Linked DNA regions of Homo sapiens. The protein of the gene in region 2 purifies or fractionates together with the protein of the main gene of each other region. This does not show direct contact. Each region holds a gene or a part of one and is shown on either strand. Other genes may lie near its edges.

Region 1 (3,176 bases), on a different chromosome or scaffold from region 2:
AAATGGGAATTCATTTGATTGAGTTTCCTTGGGCAGGGTTCTTAACATAGAGGTCTGTGGGGAGAATGGTAGAATTAAGAGAGAGGGAAAACATTTTGAACTGTTTGGTCACTGTATGCTGTAGACCCATGTTTTATGCATTGAAAAACACTGTTCAGAGAAGGGGTCCAAAGCACATAAGGCGTGAAGAAGCCCTCCCTGGTGCCGAGGTTGGAGACAGGAAAACTGGAAGGAGACCTATGGCTTTAGGCAGTTGCTAAAACCCTCTGCTTTCCCTGTAGCCACCTTGACAGCACTGCGGCCAGGAGGAAGGGGAGAGTTGGCTTGGTGGGGTACCTAGGGAACTTTGAGCAGAGACAAGTGGCCCAGCTTCAGAGCTTAGTGCCCAGAGGAGTGACCAGGCCTGGCTTAGCTCTGTGGTGACCCAGGAGGTGCTCTGGAGCTGCCGGAGGGCCTGTGGAGCACTGCAGTCTCCACACAGCAAGTCCCCAGGCAGGTTAATATCCTTTGCAAGGCTGCAGGTAAGTGGGGATACTTCCTATCCTGCTTGGAAATCAGAATCCCAGCTGTGTGTGACCTGAGACAAATCACTCAACCTCTCCCAGCCTCAGCTGCCCCACCTAGAATGTGAGGCTGACCTACCTCTGGCGTAAGGGTGGTAAGGATGGAGGCAGGCAGTGGCCCAGTTTGGACCCCTCATTTTCCCACCAGCCTCTTGACTTTTTCTTTCTGCTTTTCAGGAAAAAAGCCTGTAAATACTTTGAGCAAGGCAAGGGGACCTGCCCATTTGGAAGCAAATGTCTTTATCGCCATGCTTACCCCGATGGGCGGCTAGCAGAGCCTGAGAAACCTCGGAAACAGCTCAGTTCTCAAGGCACTGTGAGGGTAAGGACTTTAGCCATCTCTAGTTGGGGACACTTAGCAGCTGTGGGCATTTCCAGGTACCGTTCCTGGCAGAGAAATGGGGTAGGCAAAAGAACGATCAAGGAACGCAGCCTTCCTGTTGCTCTTAGCAGTAACCAGGCATGTCCACTGGCTGTTTTTGCAGTTCTTTAATTCAGTGCGGCTCTGGGATTTCATCGAGAACCGAGAAAGCCGGCATGTCCCCAACAATGAAGATGTCGACATGACAGAGCTCGGGGACCTCTTCATGCACCTTTCTGGAGTGGAATCATCAGAACCCTAAAGAGTAGATGGTTGCCCTGCATCTTGGGCTCCATCGGCCGAAACTTTCCCAAGCCAGGGTGTGCGGAGCTTCCCTGTACTGCAGCCAAGGTGACGTGTGACTTGGATTTGAGTGGAGTTGGGCTTAGCCTTAGTCTCATTCAATCTCCATTATTACAGCCATGGGGAAGAGTGAAAGATATAAAGTAACCTAATTAAATGTATGGAATTGCTATTTTTATAGCTGATATAGTTACACCTCAAGCCCCTCAGGGGTAACAACTAACAAACACCCAAACTGTTTGGATTGATTGCTTTAAAAAACAAACCTGGCTCTTACCTTTGATCTTTTCTTCCCCAGAAATAGTAAACTTGCAGCTGCCCCTAATGCAGCATATTTTTCTTACCAAAGGAGTCTTCAGCCCTATAAAAGGATTCCTCTATAGTGTATTTCTCTAGTGTATTTAGTGTGTCGTCAAAATTTTGATTTATACAGAGCTTTCAAGAACACACAATGCAAAGTGAGCGCAGCATAGCTGTTAACAAACATACAACTTTTTTCTAGGGCTTTAAGGGTGGTCATTTTTTTCAAGTTCTCTCAAGTGTCCCAAATCAGGGTAGCAATCTTGTTGCCACATGTGCAGCAAACAAAGTGGAAGTATAGATCTTCTTCTCCCTTAGGGAGGCTCTTGAAGGAGCAGGAGGTACAGTACTGGGTAGCAGTCTGGCCCTCCTGTCGTCTGGTTGGTGTTGGGGCCTCCAGCCAGGGCCCTCTAGGGGAACCAAGCCTCTGCTCTCACCTGTGGGTTCTTGCCCATCAGGGTAATTGTATTGAGAACTCAAATATACGTGCACTTACATGTGTGGTTCGTACTCAAGTGATCTATTATCTAGCTGCAAAGCCTGGCTTTGATTTGAAATTTTGTAAAAATTTCATGGCACCCAAGGTTTCTGATTCTGACCCAGCAGTGGTCCTGAAGAGAGCTGATGGCAAGTCTTGTAGTCATTTTGATTTTAATTGAAGGGTGAGCATAACCTTGTGAACCAGCACTAGCTTGTTCCAAGCTGGAATTTATCTAATCTATTTTTGTGTTTAAAAAAGCTGTACCTACCAAATAAATAAATAGTTTATAAAATGTATTACTTAAGGTATTAGCTGAGTTTAGAGTACTTTCTGCTTAATTAATTTTTATACTTAACTCTTCAGTAGAGGTTTACAAAGAGTACAAAGGTTAAATTACAAATTCATTCCCAGCCTAGGCTCTGGGCACATTTCCTGTTCTTGAATTCTGCTCCTGAAGAGGGTGAACAAATGGGGCATTCAAGTTGTGAGCTCAGAATTACTTTAAAAGGAGGTAACAGCCAGCCATTACACCTAAATTTAATTTATTTTATTAAAATAACATAATTGAGGGACCATCAGATAACTGTATTTTGTCAGGTGCAATAAAAACAAAATTAAAACCCAAATCATCAAGAAAACCTGTATTCCTGGCTTCCTTGTATACACATGATGTGACTAGAGAAACAAGGCTGTTTGTTTGTTTGTTTGTTAGAGAAACAAGGCTGGCCCTGCGGCCCCGCCCCATAGGGGCAGCTCCTGGAAGACAAAATTCAGCATGATGGAAGACTGCTCCCTGAGAGGGCTGAGATGCGGATTGGCCGAGTGCCTTGCCTGGAAAACCATCCCAATGCACTGGACACCTTAGAAGCTGTGAAAGGAGGACGTGTCCCCTAAGAAAAGTTCCATAGTACCAAAGCAGGCTCCTTCGGGCGGCCAGAGTCTCGGCAGTCCTGGGCTGTTTGGTGCCTTATGTGCAAAATGTCTGGCGCTGCACCACTCTCTGAAGAAAGTCCCGCCTGTGACATGCATTCCTCCAGAAGCTGATTTCCAAAATCCCATGTGTCTCCACATCAGGGCTGGACTGCCTGCTACCTTACTTCCTCTAAATACTCATGTAGCCAACAGCTGGGGCTGGGCCCCTGCTTTTTGTACTACCATCAACATCCAC
Region 2 (7,049 bases):
AGGAAGGGTCAGCACACTGCGAATAGCGTCCTGGTGATGTGCAACGCCAGGGCCTCTACTCTTCCACCCCGCATCTCCCTCCCTCCCTCTGTGCCATGTCTCCACTCTCCCTCATGAAGTCACATGCATCAGTGATACCAACACCCTTCTGAGTGGCAGCATCTGAGGAGTTACCAAACTGAGATAGCAAATTCCTTTCAAGTTCCGGATCTGCCCCACGAAACCTAAAGGCCTGTGGACACGTCACTACTTAATCCCCCAAACCTCAGATTCCTCAGGCATAAAATGGGGCTGTTCAGCCCAACCTTACAGGGTTGGCATGGAAAATGAATGAGATCCCATATACGGAAGCAGTCTGTAGACTCTGGCAGCCCAATGTATAGAATTATGAGCCTTGTCAAATGGAAATCTGAGTTAGAAGCTGTCACCTGTACATTTAAATCCACAAGTCTACCACTGGCTGCTGTCCATCTTGACCCCTTGCCATCGCTGCCTCAGACGGAAACTGACTAACAAAGAACTGATGGACCCGGAACATGGACTGCTGGGCAGAAAATGTTCTCAACTTGGTAAGCATATTGTGGTTACAGAAGATAATGTCCTGTTCTTGGGATGTGTTAAAGGGTGAAAGGAGACAATATATGCCACCTACCTGAAAATGGTGCAGAAAGAGAGAGGGAGAGAGAAAGAGAGAAGTGGCAGCATGTTAAAACCAATGAACGCAGGTAAAATTTACCCAAAGAGGTTTTTTTTAATTATTATTATTCCAATTTTCTTGAATTTCGATTTCCAAAGAAATAGTATTTTAAAATTTTCTTTGGCAAGTTTAAAAATAACAGACAAGAAAACACTCAGATAACTCACGTGATAGCTAGAATACATGTTTACATGAGTATCTCTGAGGGTTTCTGGTTTCTATTCTAAGGAAATCAATAGTAAAGGCACAGTCAGGGACTTCATCAGGGCTGGGAAGGTATCCCCTCTCCTCTCCCGTCTCTGTCACCATCTCCCAGGGCCTCTGCTCCACAGGGAAGCAACACCCCAGCCTAGGCAGGCCACCCTGCCCACACCTGGGGCCAAGCTCCTGACCATGCCCAGAGGAGCAAGAGCAAGGATGTGACTGGTAGCTGTGCCCAGGTACCACCACACATGGAGTCTGAACCTGCTCATCAGCTCAGGCTGGTCCCCTCATGCCCTCTAGCAGTCTGTTCCTATGCAGGGGCAAAGCAACATGGGTTTTGCTGGTGGAGGCCAGTCATGCCTTACCCTTGCCGTAGGAAGTGCCATGAACACCACAGACCCGCCAGTCAAAGTTCTGCTGGCAGATGGCGTCCACAAAAATGGCGCTGGTGCCGTGGAACAGCTGCCGCTCGTCCACGGCCTTCCCTCCGTTCTGCTTCTGCATCTGTCCTTTTTGCCTAGAATCACAGAAGAATGTGTGCTGGGGGCAGAGTGTGCCGGCCACCAAATACAGCCGGCCTGATGCAAAACAACACATTTTTCCAAAATTCCAAAAGTGTCCTGGGACCAAGAGACGCAGGTCACAGGCTACCCTGACTAGGCCTGTAAGCTCCAGCCACAAGCCAGGGTGTGGAAAAGAAGGGGGATCGTGGGAGCTGGGTGAAAACCCTCCCTCCACAGCTCCAGACAGCAGCGGTTCCCTGGACTCCAAAAGCAGAGCAGCCCTTGGAAAATGGGTACCATTTCCCCCAACCCCACCCCCACCTTGCTCCTGCATGGAGCTGAGCCCTGGGATGCTGTAGGAATTTTCAGGCTGCTGGTCAGTGGGTGCCCATCCTTCTCCCCTCTCCCATTCCCAGACTTCATCACTGTGCACAGAGTACACATTACACTACCCCAACCCCATCTGGGGACAGGTCAGCAAGACCCAGCCTGCCATGGTGACCTATTGTAGGATTCCTCCCCACATAGACAGGTGAGTGGGTGCTCAAGGACAAGCCAGTCCTCATGTATGAACCTGAGACCCCTGCTGTCTAGCCACAGCCTTATGTTCCTGGGGCTAATGGTGTGGTGGGCTGTACTGACCCATCCCACTGGTCTCCAGGAAGGCAGAATGGACAAGTGAGAGTGCTAGCTTTGCCACCACTCATGAACGGGACCAGGTGGTATGCTCCAGGAAGCCTCGGTGCCCTCATCTCTACAATGGGATGTGCTACCACACTGCCCTGGGGGAGCGGACGAAGGAGAGCAGACACACAGCTCCCAGCACATGGCAGCCCTAACTGCCGCTCTGCTTTTCCTGGAAACCCGGGCCACATGTGGCAACCAGCCAGTGGTGTGAAGGGACAGAGTCACCAGCCCACCAAGAGCGAGCCCCAACGCACCACTGGTAGACTTCCCAGAGGGCCAGGTTCTGTACTCGCTCAATCTTCTGAACAAAGTAGAAAGGCAGCGTGCGGTTAAAGAGGTTCCAGACCTTCTGATACTCTTCCGAGGAAGAACTAAGGGTGATCTTCTGCAAGGGGCAAATGTTTTTAATGCATTACCATCAACGTGCAGAATATAAATCAGTCCCTTCCCAAAGCTTCTTGTAAACACTAGAACCGCAGAAGCACAAAAGCCCAGAGAGCAGTGACCACATTCTCCTGTGGTTTCTCCAGGCACAGGAGACAATCGGTCCTCATGAAATGTCATTGATAGGTTCTTGGAAACTGCAATTTTAAGTAAAACAACAAACCTCTTGTTTATGTCAGTTAGCATATGGGAAATTGGTTTCGTTAGACAGTATGTTGTGCCACTTTAAGTCAGTTTCCAAGAACCTACTGATGATGTTGAGGATTTACTATGTTTGCAAATTGTAGTCACTTTGCTCCTCATCACTGTGAAACCAATCTAAAGGACAGACACGTGATGCTTAAGCCACCATCGAGGGTATCCCCTGGATGTCCCTGCCTTTTTTTTTTCTTGTCCCACACAGGTCAAAGACACAGGTTGGACTACATGGTCCAAGGACCACAGAGTCGTCTAGACAAACATGTTGAACCCCTTTAGGTCCTTAGCACTTCTTGCCTGCACTGTTGGCATCTGCATGTGCCTTATACAAGCTCAATAAGTCCTCCCAGGACAGGGACCGTCACGTTTTAAAGCTGAGTTAGACAGTGCTCGGCAGCCGGCCAGCTGGCAGACATCAGCCCAGGTGCAGACGGGCAGCCTCAGATGTTAGTCTGCGTACTCTCCTGCACTCAGCACAGCTCCCACTGGTCAGAGCCCCTCAACAAGCTGCCAAATTGACTGTCCATTCTCCTGTCTGCTAGTCGTGAATGCCTTCCCTCCTGACAGTAACCCCATTCCAAATGTCCATCGGACTCAGGTCCTCCCCAGGCTGCTTCTCCTTTTCTCGCTTAATAAAATTGGTATTTATTGGTTAAGCCCAGCCCATAAACTCATTTCTGCCCTTTCTAGCAAATTTCACGCTCATCCTCCTCCCTCCACAAGACAACCCCTCCCCTCAGAGCCACAGCCAACTCCTGGGTGGTGAAAAAACAAAACCCTCTGCAAAAAACAAAAACAAAAATAAAGCCCACATCTGTCACTGCCCTCCTGCCCCAATTAGCCCCAGCCTTACAGCTTCTTCAGTGTTGAGGAATGGCACAGTCTGTTCACACACACCCACTTCTACAGAACACCTTCCTGTCCAGCCCCAGGCGCATGCGTCCCCTACCTGAAAGCCTGGGTCTGGCAGGGCAGAGGAGTCCCAATAGTCTGGGATGCTCTTCGGGCCTGGAAACTTGGTATTGCTACAAAAATGTAAACAAAAACACGTAGACATTTTATTCTTACACAAAGCAAATATACCATAGGTGGTCTCTGCTAGCCAATATCACCAGTCTTGAGTCTCAGCACATCATATTTCAAGAGCAGGTAGAAGGCAAGGAAGAATGTTAGCACGATATTCACAACATGAGAGCACTTTTATCTTTGCCTATGTAGCCAAACTCCAAACAGTCCTGAGAGATCTATTTCTCGCCTGTGTCCCAACTACCACACAAAAGGGATAAAAGGGATGGAGTACATGGTTAAAGGAGCACACACACAGCCATAAACCTTTATCCACAATTCTGAAATTCTAAGAGCTCTAAAGACATTTTTTTAAGGCCTCGATGAGGTATAATTGACATTTTAAAACTTTTTATACAGCTCAGGAAAAGCAGGAGAAAATATGAAATAAAACATTTTTTGAAAAACATAAAAGTGACATCAAAAGTCATTTGGCAGTAGAAATTTGACTGAAGTTAGTAAGAGGCCACTGTGATCTGTATCTATCCTTCTTAAACTGACTATGCATATTGTTTACTGCAGAAATATTAATGTGCTAAAATACAGAGTGTCACGTGATACAAGCATCACATTATCTTTCTAAAAATTAAATAAAAGCAGTTCAAAAGACATATGGATCAAGGGTTCAGGAACAAGGACTGTGAAACTATAATTACAAATCATTCCTATTAAGTTTCAGAATACACTGTTCTTTCTAAATAGATCTACCTTCTGTTTCTGCTGGCATGAAACATATACCTTCATCCTAAGCCTCAAAGAACTCCCACAAATAACTTTCCTGGGAAAATGGCACAGTTCAAAAATAACTAAGCAAGGTCCTACCAGCAAGAATCAGCCAAAAACAGACCCACAAAGACTTAAGATGCTGAAATTATCAGAGAGATTACAAAACAATTATTCTTCCTATGTTTAAAGGAAAAAAAAAGACAAACTTTAAAAACATATGCAAGGAACAGGAAACTATAAAAAGACCTGGAAGATCTAAAAAAGAACCAAATAGAACTTACAGAATTAAGTACAATCTTTAATAATAAAAGTGTAGTGGACAGGCTTAATAGCAGATTAGACCAGCTGGAGGAAGAATCAGTGAGCTGAAACATATGTGAAATGAAATTGTCCAGAATGTGGCCCACAGCAACAAGGAAATGGAAAATGCAGGAAAGAAGTTGAGACATGGAGAACAGTGAGAACTTGAATATGATCAGAACCTAAGTGAAGCTCTAGGAGAGGAGAGACAAGACAGTGGAGGCGATTTTCAAAGAGAACTGATGAGATGCACCTATCCGCAGCTTAAGAAGCCCAAAGAATCTCAACCATGATAAATAAAAGCACATACTTAGATACACTTTAGTGAGGATGCCTACCTCCAAGACAAACAGAAGCTCTTAAAAGTAGCCAAAGGAAAAAAGAGTGATTACTGTCAAAGAAGCACCTGTTAGACCAACAGGCAATTTCTCAAAAGCAACAGTGGAAGCCAGAATACAGTGGAGTGATCATCACAATGATCCAAGAGAAAATCCCTACAACCCAAAATTCTATACCCAGTGAAAATTTCCTTCAAGATTGATGGCAAAATAAATACATGTTGGCCAGGCGCAGTGGCCCACGCCTGTAATCCCAGCACTTTGGGAGGCCGAGGTGGGCAGATCACTTGAGATCAGGAGTTCAAGACCAGCCTGACCAACATAATGAAACCCCATCTCCACCAAAAATACAAAAATTAGCCGGGCATGGTGGCGCACGCCAGTAGTCCAAGCTACTCAGGAGGCTGAGACAGGAGAATCGCTTGAACTCAAGAGGCGGAGGTTGCAGTGAGCCAAGATCATGCCACTGCACTCTGGCCTGGGCGACAGTGCGACTCCATCTCAAAATACATACATACATACATGCATACATACATACGTACATACATATTCAGACAAACCAAAAACAGTTTTCCAACAAATCTTCATCGAAGGCAGCCTTGTCCAACCTGCAGCCCGCAGGCTGCATGTAACCCAGGACAGCTTTGAATGTGACCCAACACAAATCTGTAAACTTTCTTAAAACATTATGAGATTTTCTTGTGGTTTTTATTCTTTTAGTTCAGCTATCGTTAGTGTTAGTGTATTTTATGTGTGGACCAATTCTTTTTCCTCTAATGTGGCCTGGGAAAGCCAAAAGATTGGACACCCCTGATCTAAGGTAATCTGAAAGGACAAAGTGGTAAAAATGTGAGTAAATTTAATGAAACTTTCAGAGTATAAAATAATGGTGCCTCTTGAGGTTTAAAAAAAGTTGAGAGGAAGGCAAATGGAAGAAAAGATAGGAGGGCAAAGATATTGATTTACTTGTACTTAAGTGAAGAACATGTAGTTTCTACCATAGCCTTTAAAATATACATATACACAAAAGAAGGTAAGAAAAGAAAAAATAAGACCCAATCACATGAATGAAACATTTTCATAGAGGATGGGCAACATGGTGAGACCCTGTCTCCACAACAAATAAAAAAATTAGCTGGGCATGGTGGCGCATGCCTGTGGTCCCAACTACTTGGGATGCTGAGGTGGGAGGATTGCTTGAGCCCGGGAGGTGGAAGGTGCAATAAGCCGTGATCAGGTCACTGCATTCCATCCTGGGTGACAGAGTGAGACCCTGTCTCATAAATAAATAAATAAATAAATACATAAATAAATTTTACATGACACTCCTGTATTATGACTTCTGAATATGGACATTACATTTTATGACCTCATTAATTGTGTAAACAGAAAAGTTGTTTCTGAAAGTGATCTACCCTCAGATTCCCAATTGGCCATGCAGGCCCAGGCAGACTTGCTTACTGGAGTTAATGACAACCAGCTGCTGGCACATGGGTCAGAGAGAAGAACTGAACACTTCATCTGTGTGAACAGTGTGTGACACTCCGCTTACAGGAGACCCCAAATCACCCATATCTTAGTCTGAATCACTTTTAGTTTGGACATTTGGCATCTTCTTGTGGCCCCCTAAAAACTAAATTAGAATAAGAGAGATCTACTCTCAGAAAGCAGAGAGACTTTTCCAAACCTTGTCTAGGGTAGGCTTTGTATAGGAAAAGAATAAAAAATGACTTCCAGAAATAGGAGGGTCATAATCAACCAAAACTCTAAATCCAGAATCAGTAAGACACTGATACATTTAACTAAAATAATAAGAGATATATATTTATGGTAAAATACTTCACAGGCAAAGTCAAAAGGCAAACAACAAACTAAGAGAAAATATTT
Region 3 (7,049 bases), on a different chromosome or scaffold from region 2:
AAGGAGATTCTTAGAGGCAGTAGAAAATGGTCAAGTGTTCAGAAGATGGCCTTTCATTATATATCTTTAGTTCTTTCTGGCAGATTTGGTTATACTGTCTTAATCTATCAGGTTGGGTAAGTAGCCCAGGGTGTCTTCTCCATTCTTTCTGTATGCCTTATCTCAGCATTACCATCTTCCTAGGCTTCAGGATAGGAACTCGGTCATCTTTGACTTCTTTTCTTCAAAGTCAGTAAGTTATCAAGTCCTCCTGATTCTACCTTTCTGTGAATGGTTTCCTGAATTCATCCCCTGCTGCTTCAGTCAGACCCTCACAATCCTCTGCCTTTAGCCATCTGTTTGGTTTCTACTTTGTCTCTTCTCACCTTCTCACCTAAAAAAAAAAAAAACTATAGGGCTGGGCTCAGTGGCTCACACCTGTAATCCCAGCACTTTGGGAGGCCAAGACGGGTGGATCACCAGAGGTCAGGAGTTCGAGACCAGCCTGGCTAACGTGGTGAAACCCCGTCTCTACTAAAAATATAAAATTAGCTGGGTGTGGTCATGCGCGCCTGTAACCCCAGCCACTTGGGAGTCTGAAGCAGGAGAATCGCTTGGACCGGGGAGGCAGATTTTGCAGTGAGCCGAGATTGCACCATTGCACTTCAGCCTGGGCAACAGAGCACGACTCTGTCTCAAAAAAAAAAAAAAAAAAAAAAGTAACAAAACTTTGTTTTCCATGATAGCACAGAGATATTTTTCTGAAACCTGGATTTGGCCTTGTTTTGTTAATACCTTCCTTTTAAACTCCTGGCTCCCTACTGTTTATGAGGAAAAGTCTGTTAGATTTTTATTTCCTCAGATACATATCAATTTTAAGCCTAAATTAGGCCTAGAATAGTCTTCCCTTCCTCTGCTAGCTGACCTCTTTTTTTAAAATGCCAGAGGGGTAATGGGCCAACATCTGTAACAAGGTTCGAGGGTGGCACATCTCACACATGCACATGAACACCCAGTCCTCAGGTTCATGAACTACAAAAGGATCCATCTGAACCCTTTTTTTTTTTTTTTTGAGACGGAGTCTCGCTCTGTCTCCCAGGCTGGATGGAGTGCAGTGGCGCGATCTTGGCTCACTGCAAGCTCTGCGTCCTGGGTTCATGCCATTCTCCTGCCTAAGCCTCCCGAGTAGCTGGGACTACAGGCACCCGCCACCACTCCCAGCTAATTTTTGTATTTTTAGTAGAGACGGGGTTTCACTGTGTTAGCCAGGATGGTCTCGATCTCCTGACCTTGTGATCTGCCCGCCTCGGCCTCCCAAAGTGCTGGGATTACAGGCATGAGCCACCGCGCCTGGCTGAGCTGAACCCTTTTAAGGCTGATCAGAGATGCCGTCTCTGCAGTCTTCCCCTCCACCCCCCCCTTGAGACAGAGTCGCACTCTGTTGCCCAGGCTGGAGTGTGCAGCCACCTCTGCCTCCCAGGTTCAAGCAATTCTCCTGCCTCAGCCTCCCGAGTAGCTGGGATTACAGGCATCTGCCACCATGCCTGGCTAATTTTGGTATTTTTAGTAGAGACGGGTTTCACCATGTTGGTAAGGCTGGTCTCAAACTCCTGACCTCGTGATCTGCCTGCCTTGGCCTCCCAAAGTGCTGGGATTACGGGCGTGAGCCACCGCTCCCAGCCTTCACTGCAGTCTTACCAGCCCTTTCCTTCTCAGGTCACTAGTTGATTTTCCCTTTATGTTCCTGTAGCGCTTTGCCTTCACCTGTAATGATAGCAGCTCCCGTTTGTGGTGCGTTTTGTAAGGGCTGGACACTCTGCCAGGGGTCTGCTATACAAACTGTATCCTCCCAGCAGTCCTAGAGGTAGGTACTACTCTCTCCATTTCACAAAGGAAAAAATGGAGATTCAAGAAACCCCACTGAGATCCTTCAGTGGCAGGGCCTAAGGCTTGAAGCCTCAACCTTAACACCTTCACTGTGTCTATCACAGGAGTTTGCATTTGTTTCTGTAGTTGTGTGTTCTTTGTAGTCCACTCCTATCCCTCATTTTTTCTGGCTTGGAAGGACTTAGTATTTGAACTGGGAGGAGAGAGCAAGTTGTTTTTTACTCCATTATCCATTGATGTCTTTTTAAAAGTTGATCCATATTTGTCGTCTTGTCTCCATGATGCGTGACAGAGGTTCTCTGTATGTCTTGTTCTAGCTTTTGCTCTGCATGCCTGCAGGAATGTCTGAAGCCGAAGAAGCCTGTCTGTGGGGTGTGTCGCAGCGCTCTGGCACCTGGCGTCCGAGCCGTGGAGCTCGAGCGGCAGATCGAGAGCACAGAGACTTCTTGCCATGGCTGCCGTAAGAATGTATGTGGAAGTGATGTGGAAGAGTCCATGTCTTTCCATGATAAGTTGGGGTAAAACGTACAGCTGCCATGTTGTTGCTGAAGTTAGAGCATGACTAGGTCACTAACAGCACGCGTGCATGCCAATTACCTGTGGTGATGGCTGGGCTGGTTTGTTTTCATAACCTTACTGGTTTTTGTTTCTTTTTTTAAGAGTTGGTTAAGTATATATTTTAGGTTTGAAAGCCATAGAAATCAGTTATCCCAGTTTTTTCCTATAAAAGATCAATTATGGCCAGGCGCGGTGGCTCATTCCTGTAACCCCAGCTCTTTGGGAGTCCGAGGCAAGAGCTTGAGGCTAGGAGTTAAGAGACCAGCCTGGACAACATAGTGAGACCTCATCTTTACAAAAAAATAAAATTAGCCGGGTGTGGTGGTATGTACCTGTAGGCCCAGCTACTCAGGAGGCAGAGGCCAGAGGATCACTTGAGCCCAGGAGTTTGGGATTACAGTGATCTATGATCATGCCACTGCACTCCAGCCTGGCTGACAGCAAGACCCTGTCTCTTAAAAAAAAGTCAATATGAAATCATTGGATTGTAATAACAATAGCTAACATTTGAAATGCATCCATGCTCTTGTATAATCAGAGTCAAGTATATTTATTTTCATACCTGTTATAACTGCTACTGGAAAGGAGAAATACTGTTGTCTTATTTTCCAAGAGATATACACAGCCTTGTTGATTTTAGAATCATTAAAATTTTTAAAATTGCAGACCATACAAAAGTACACAATAATGTAGGCTTGTTCCTCATTCCAGAGATTACTTCAAAATTCGTTCAACTTAAGGCCTGGCAAGGTGGTTCATGCCTGTAATCCCAACACTTTGGGAGGCCAAGGTGGGTGGATTGCTTGAGTCCAGGAGTTCTAGACCAGCCTGGACAACATGGTGAAACCTCGGCTCTACTGAAAATACAAAAAACTAGCAGGGCATGGTGGTGTGTGCCCGTAGTCTCAACTGTTCGGGAGGCTGAGGTGAGAGGATGGCTTGAGCCCAGGAGGCAGAGGTTGCAGTGAGCTGAGTTCGTGCCACTGCACTCCATCCTGGGTGATAGAGCCGGACCCTGTCTCAAGGAAAAAAAAAGTGATTTAATTTCGAAAGCTGCATAACATTTTCTGCCCTTTGACAAACACTGTAGAATTTTTACCAACCAAGTTGTAGGATTTTTGCAAAATGAGATTATACTATAATATATATATTTCTTCAACTTTTTTCACTTTTTTAAATGTACACTCATTCCCAACTTTTTTTTTCCACTTTTCAGGTTTTTTTTCTCTTACATATTGGACAGCCTTGCATGTCAGTTTCATTATTTTTAACACTTCGGTATGGATGCCCATAGTAAGAATATACCTTACCATCTCCTTTTCAGCGTGATTTAGTATTAGGGATGCATAGTAGGGCCATTTCAATGCTGAATAGGGCTATTTTCTGTGTCTTAATTGGGGGCTTCACTCTTGAGGCTGGGCATGGTGGCTCATGCCTATATCCTATCATTTGGAGAGGCCAAGGCAAGAGGATCACTGACCCCAGGAGTTCGAAATCAGCCTGGGCAACATAGTGGGACTCTGTATATACCAAAACAAACCAACAAACAAAACCAGCTGTGTGTAGTGGTGTATGCATGTAGTCCCAGCTCCTTGGGAGGCTGAGGTGGGAAGATTGCTTGAGCCCAGAAGTTTGAGAGCAGCCTGGGGAATATAGTGGACCCAGTTTCTACAAAAAAAGGAAAAAAAAATTGAGGATTCCTCAGTTTGTAGCTTAAAGTCAAGTTCTTGAGCTGGAGGTGAGACAATCATCATGGTAAGCTGGAGCTCAAATATTGGAGCATTTTTTTCCCCCTTTGAAGTTTACTTTTAGAAACTCAAAATATTGAAATACAATTCCCTACTGTCTTCTTTTTTTTTTTTTTTTTTTTTTTTTGAGACGGAGTCTCACTCTGTTGCCCAGGCTGGAGTACAGTGGCGTGATCTCAGCTCACTGCAGGCTCCGCCTGTTGGGTTCACGCCATTCTCCTGCCTCAGCCTCCTGAGTAGCTGGGACTACAGGTGCCCATCACCACGCCCAGCTATATATATATACACACACACACACACACACACACATACATACACACAGAGATATATATATATATATATATATATATTTGTATTTTTAGTAGAGACAGGGTTTCACTGTGTTAGCCAGGATGGTCTCGATCTCCTGACCTCGTGACCCGCCCGCCTCAGCCTCCCAAAATGCTGGGATTATAGGCATGAGCCATTGCACCCGGTCTCTTCATCTTTATTTATGCATGCATAATGTGGTTTTTGGTTTTGTTTTGTTTTTTTTCTGAGACAGGGTCTGGCTTTGTTGCCCGGGCTGGAGTGCAATTGCGTGGTCTCAGCTCACTGAAACCTCTGCCTCCCAGGCTCAAACCATCCTCCCACCTCAGCCTCTCAAGTAGCTGGGACTACAGGCATGTGTCACCACGCCTGCCTAATTTTTTTGTATTTTCAGTAGAGACGAGTTTTGCATGTTGCCCATGCTGATCTCGAACTCGGGAGCGTGAAGTGATGGCCCACCTCAGCCTCCCTCAGGATTACAGGTGTGAGCCACCGTACTCCGCCCATGATGGGCTTTTTGTTTGTTTTACTGTATGCTTTTGCTTTTCTCCATTTTCAAGATTAGTGATTGTACTGTTGGCATGCCTCAGAAAATGTTTTTCTTTCCTTTATCTTCCCTCTTTTCTTCAATTCTTAAAACTTTCTTTCTTTTTAGAAAACCTGTAATGAAGCACTATTCTCTGGGTTTTCTTCTCTTTCTGTTTTACTGTTGCACAGCCTAGATTTTATATGAAAGGCTGGGCCGGGCGTGGTAGCTCACGCCTGTAAACCCAGCACTTTGGCAGGCTGAGGCAGGCAGATCACTTGAGGTCAGGAGTTCGAGACCAGCCTGGCTAACGTGGTGAAACTCCATCTCTACTAAAAATATGAAAATTAGCTGGGCCTGATGGCACACACCTGTAATCCCAGCTACTCAGGAGGCTGAGGTGGGAGAATCACTTGAACCCGGGAGGCGGAGGTTGCAGTGAGCCGAGATGGTGCCACTGCACTTCAGTCTGGGCGACAGAGTGAGTGAGACTCTGTCTCAAAAAAAAAAAAAAAGAGAATTTAGATTTTAAAGATTATTTCTCAGAGGCTGGTGATAGATACTTTAACCAGGGTTAGTGGCTTTTATATGTTTTACCTAAAGGATCACTTTTCTCTGCTGCACATAACAGAATGTGGTTTTTGGCTTGCTGTAAGGAGACTAGTTTAAATGCTAGTATAGAAAACTTTTAAAAACATCCTAGATTTGGAGCTTGTCTGTGAGCAGACAGCCTATCATGAATAGGAGCAAACCTCTAGGAGAGTTATTTTAGAGTGGAAGTGGATATCCTGATTTAGTCGAATAAAATAGCAGCCTTGGTATTAATGGGAAATCTGCAATAATCAGGGTTTCAGCCCCATCAGCGTAGTCAGGAGTTTGGTGAGATTATTTGCCAGGGTGGTGTAGGTCTAGTTTTCTTTGTGCCCTTGTTTGGGACTATATTTTGCCTGTTGCAAGGTCCTCACTAACTTATGGGCTCTGATTCTTCCTATTTGAGTTCTTCCTGTCCAAGATCCGGTCCCACGTGGCTACTTGTTCCAAATACCAGAATTACATCATGGAAGGTGTGAAGGCCACCATTAAGGATGCATCTCTTCAGCCAAGGTAAATGACTCAGTCTCCCCTTAGGTGGAGGTCATCTCTTGCTATTAATACAAAGAGGTTGCATGCCCAGGGGTTTAGTTGTATGAATTGTTATGCTGGCTAAAGCTGATACAAGTATTTTGGGAGGAGTATGCAAGGGAGGACTCTGGTGTTCACTTCAGATGTTAGCTGAGCTATATTCTTTTTTTCTTTTTTGAGACAGAGTCTCGCTCTGTTGCCCAGGCTGGTGTGCAGTGGTGCAATCTCAGCTCACTGCAACCTCTGCCTCCCGGGTTCAAGCGATTCTCCTGCCTCAACCTCCCAAGTAGCTGGGATTACAGGCACCTGCCACCATGCCTGGCTAAATTTTGTATTTTTTAGTAGAGACAGGGTTTGTCATGTTGGTCAGGCTGGTCTTGAACTCCTGATCTCAGGTGATCCGCCTGCTTTGGCCTCCCAAAGTGCTGCGATTACAGGCGTAAACCACCACGCCCGGCCAGCTGAGCTGTTATTTTCACAACACTTGACCTGAGTCTGAAGTGATCATCAGCATCCTTATCATTACACATTTGGTGAGCTTTGCTCCTTTTTGGAGTGTACTGTGGTTGAAGTTTAATGGAAAGGTACTCACAGAAAAGTTTTCTTTTTTCCTGTGTTTCACCTTCCAGGAATGTTCCAAACCGTTACACCTTTCCTTGTCCTTACTGTCCTGAGAAGAACTTTGATCAGGAAGGACTTGTGGAACACTGCAAATTATTCCATAGCACGGATACCAAATCTGTGGTGAGTAACCTTTTTTTTTTTTTTTAAACTTCATTAAGGGAAAGGATCAAGCTTGGAGAAAAATGACGGGATTAGTAGAATGAACTCCTGTGTGCCCTTCACCTAGATTGACAGATTGTTAACATTTTACCATATTTGCTTAACCATGCTCTATAGTACACATTTTTTGCTGACCA

The links. Proteins that work in one complex are often made in the same cells at the same time.
Region 1: the proteins of PARP12 (region 2) and MKRN2 purify together in Homo sapiens (co-immunoprecipitation; 3 studies listed by BioGRID and IntAct, with this or other methods). This does not show direct contact.
Region 3: the proteins of PARP12 (region 2) and RNF114 purify together in Homo sapiens (affinity purification with mass spectrometry; 4 studies listed by BioGRID and IntAct, with this or other methods). This does not show direct contact.

Annotation. Positions count from the first base shown.
Region 1 is NC_000003.12:12,581,068-12,584,243, forward strand, and holds the end of MKRN2 (E3 ubiquitin-protein ligase makorin-2), read left to right. Parts: intron 1-740; coding exon 741-885; intron 886-1,048; coding exon 1,049-1,186; 3' UTR 1,187-2,646; downstream 2,647-3,176. UniProt on the Homo sapiens protein: E3 ubiquitin ligase catalyzing the covalent attachment of ubiquitin moieties onto substrate proteins.
Region 2 is NC_000007.14:140,024,931-140,031,979, forward strand, and holds part of PARP12 (protein mono-ADP-ribosyltransferase PARP12), read right to left. Parts: intron 3,759-7,049; coding exon 3,683-3,758; exon of another isoform or gene 3,682-3,682; intron 2,477-3,681; coding exon 2,346-2,476; intron 1,419-2,345; coding exon 1,267-1,418; intron 1-1,266.
Region 3 is NC_000020.11:49,939,378-49,946,426, forward strand, and holds part of RNF114 (E3 ubiquitin-protein ligase RNF114), read left to right. Parts: intron 1-918; exon of another isoform or gene 919-1,023; intron 1,024-2,183; coding exon 2,184-2,334; intron 2,335-6,004; coding exon 6,005-6,111; intron 6,112-6,758; coding exon 6,759-6,873; intron 6,874-7,049. UniProt on the Homo sapiens protein: E3 ubiquitin-protein ligase that promotes the ubiquitination of various substrates. In turn, participates in the regulation of many biological processes including cell cycle, apoptosis, osteoclastogenesis as well as innate or adaptive immunity.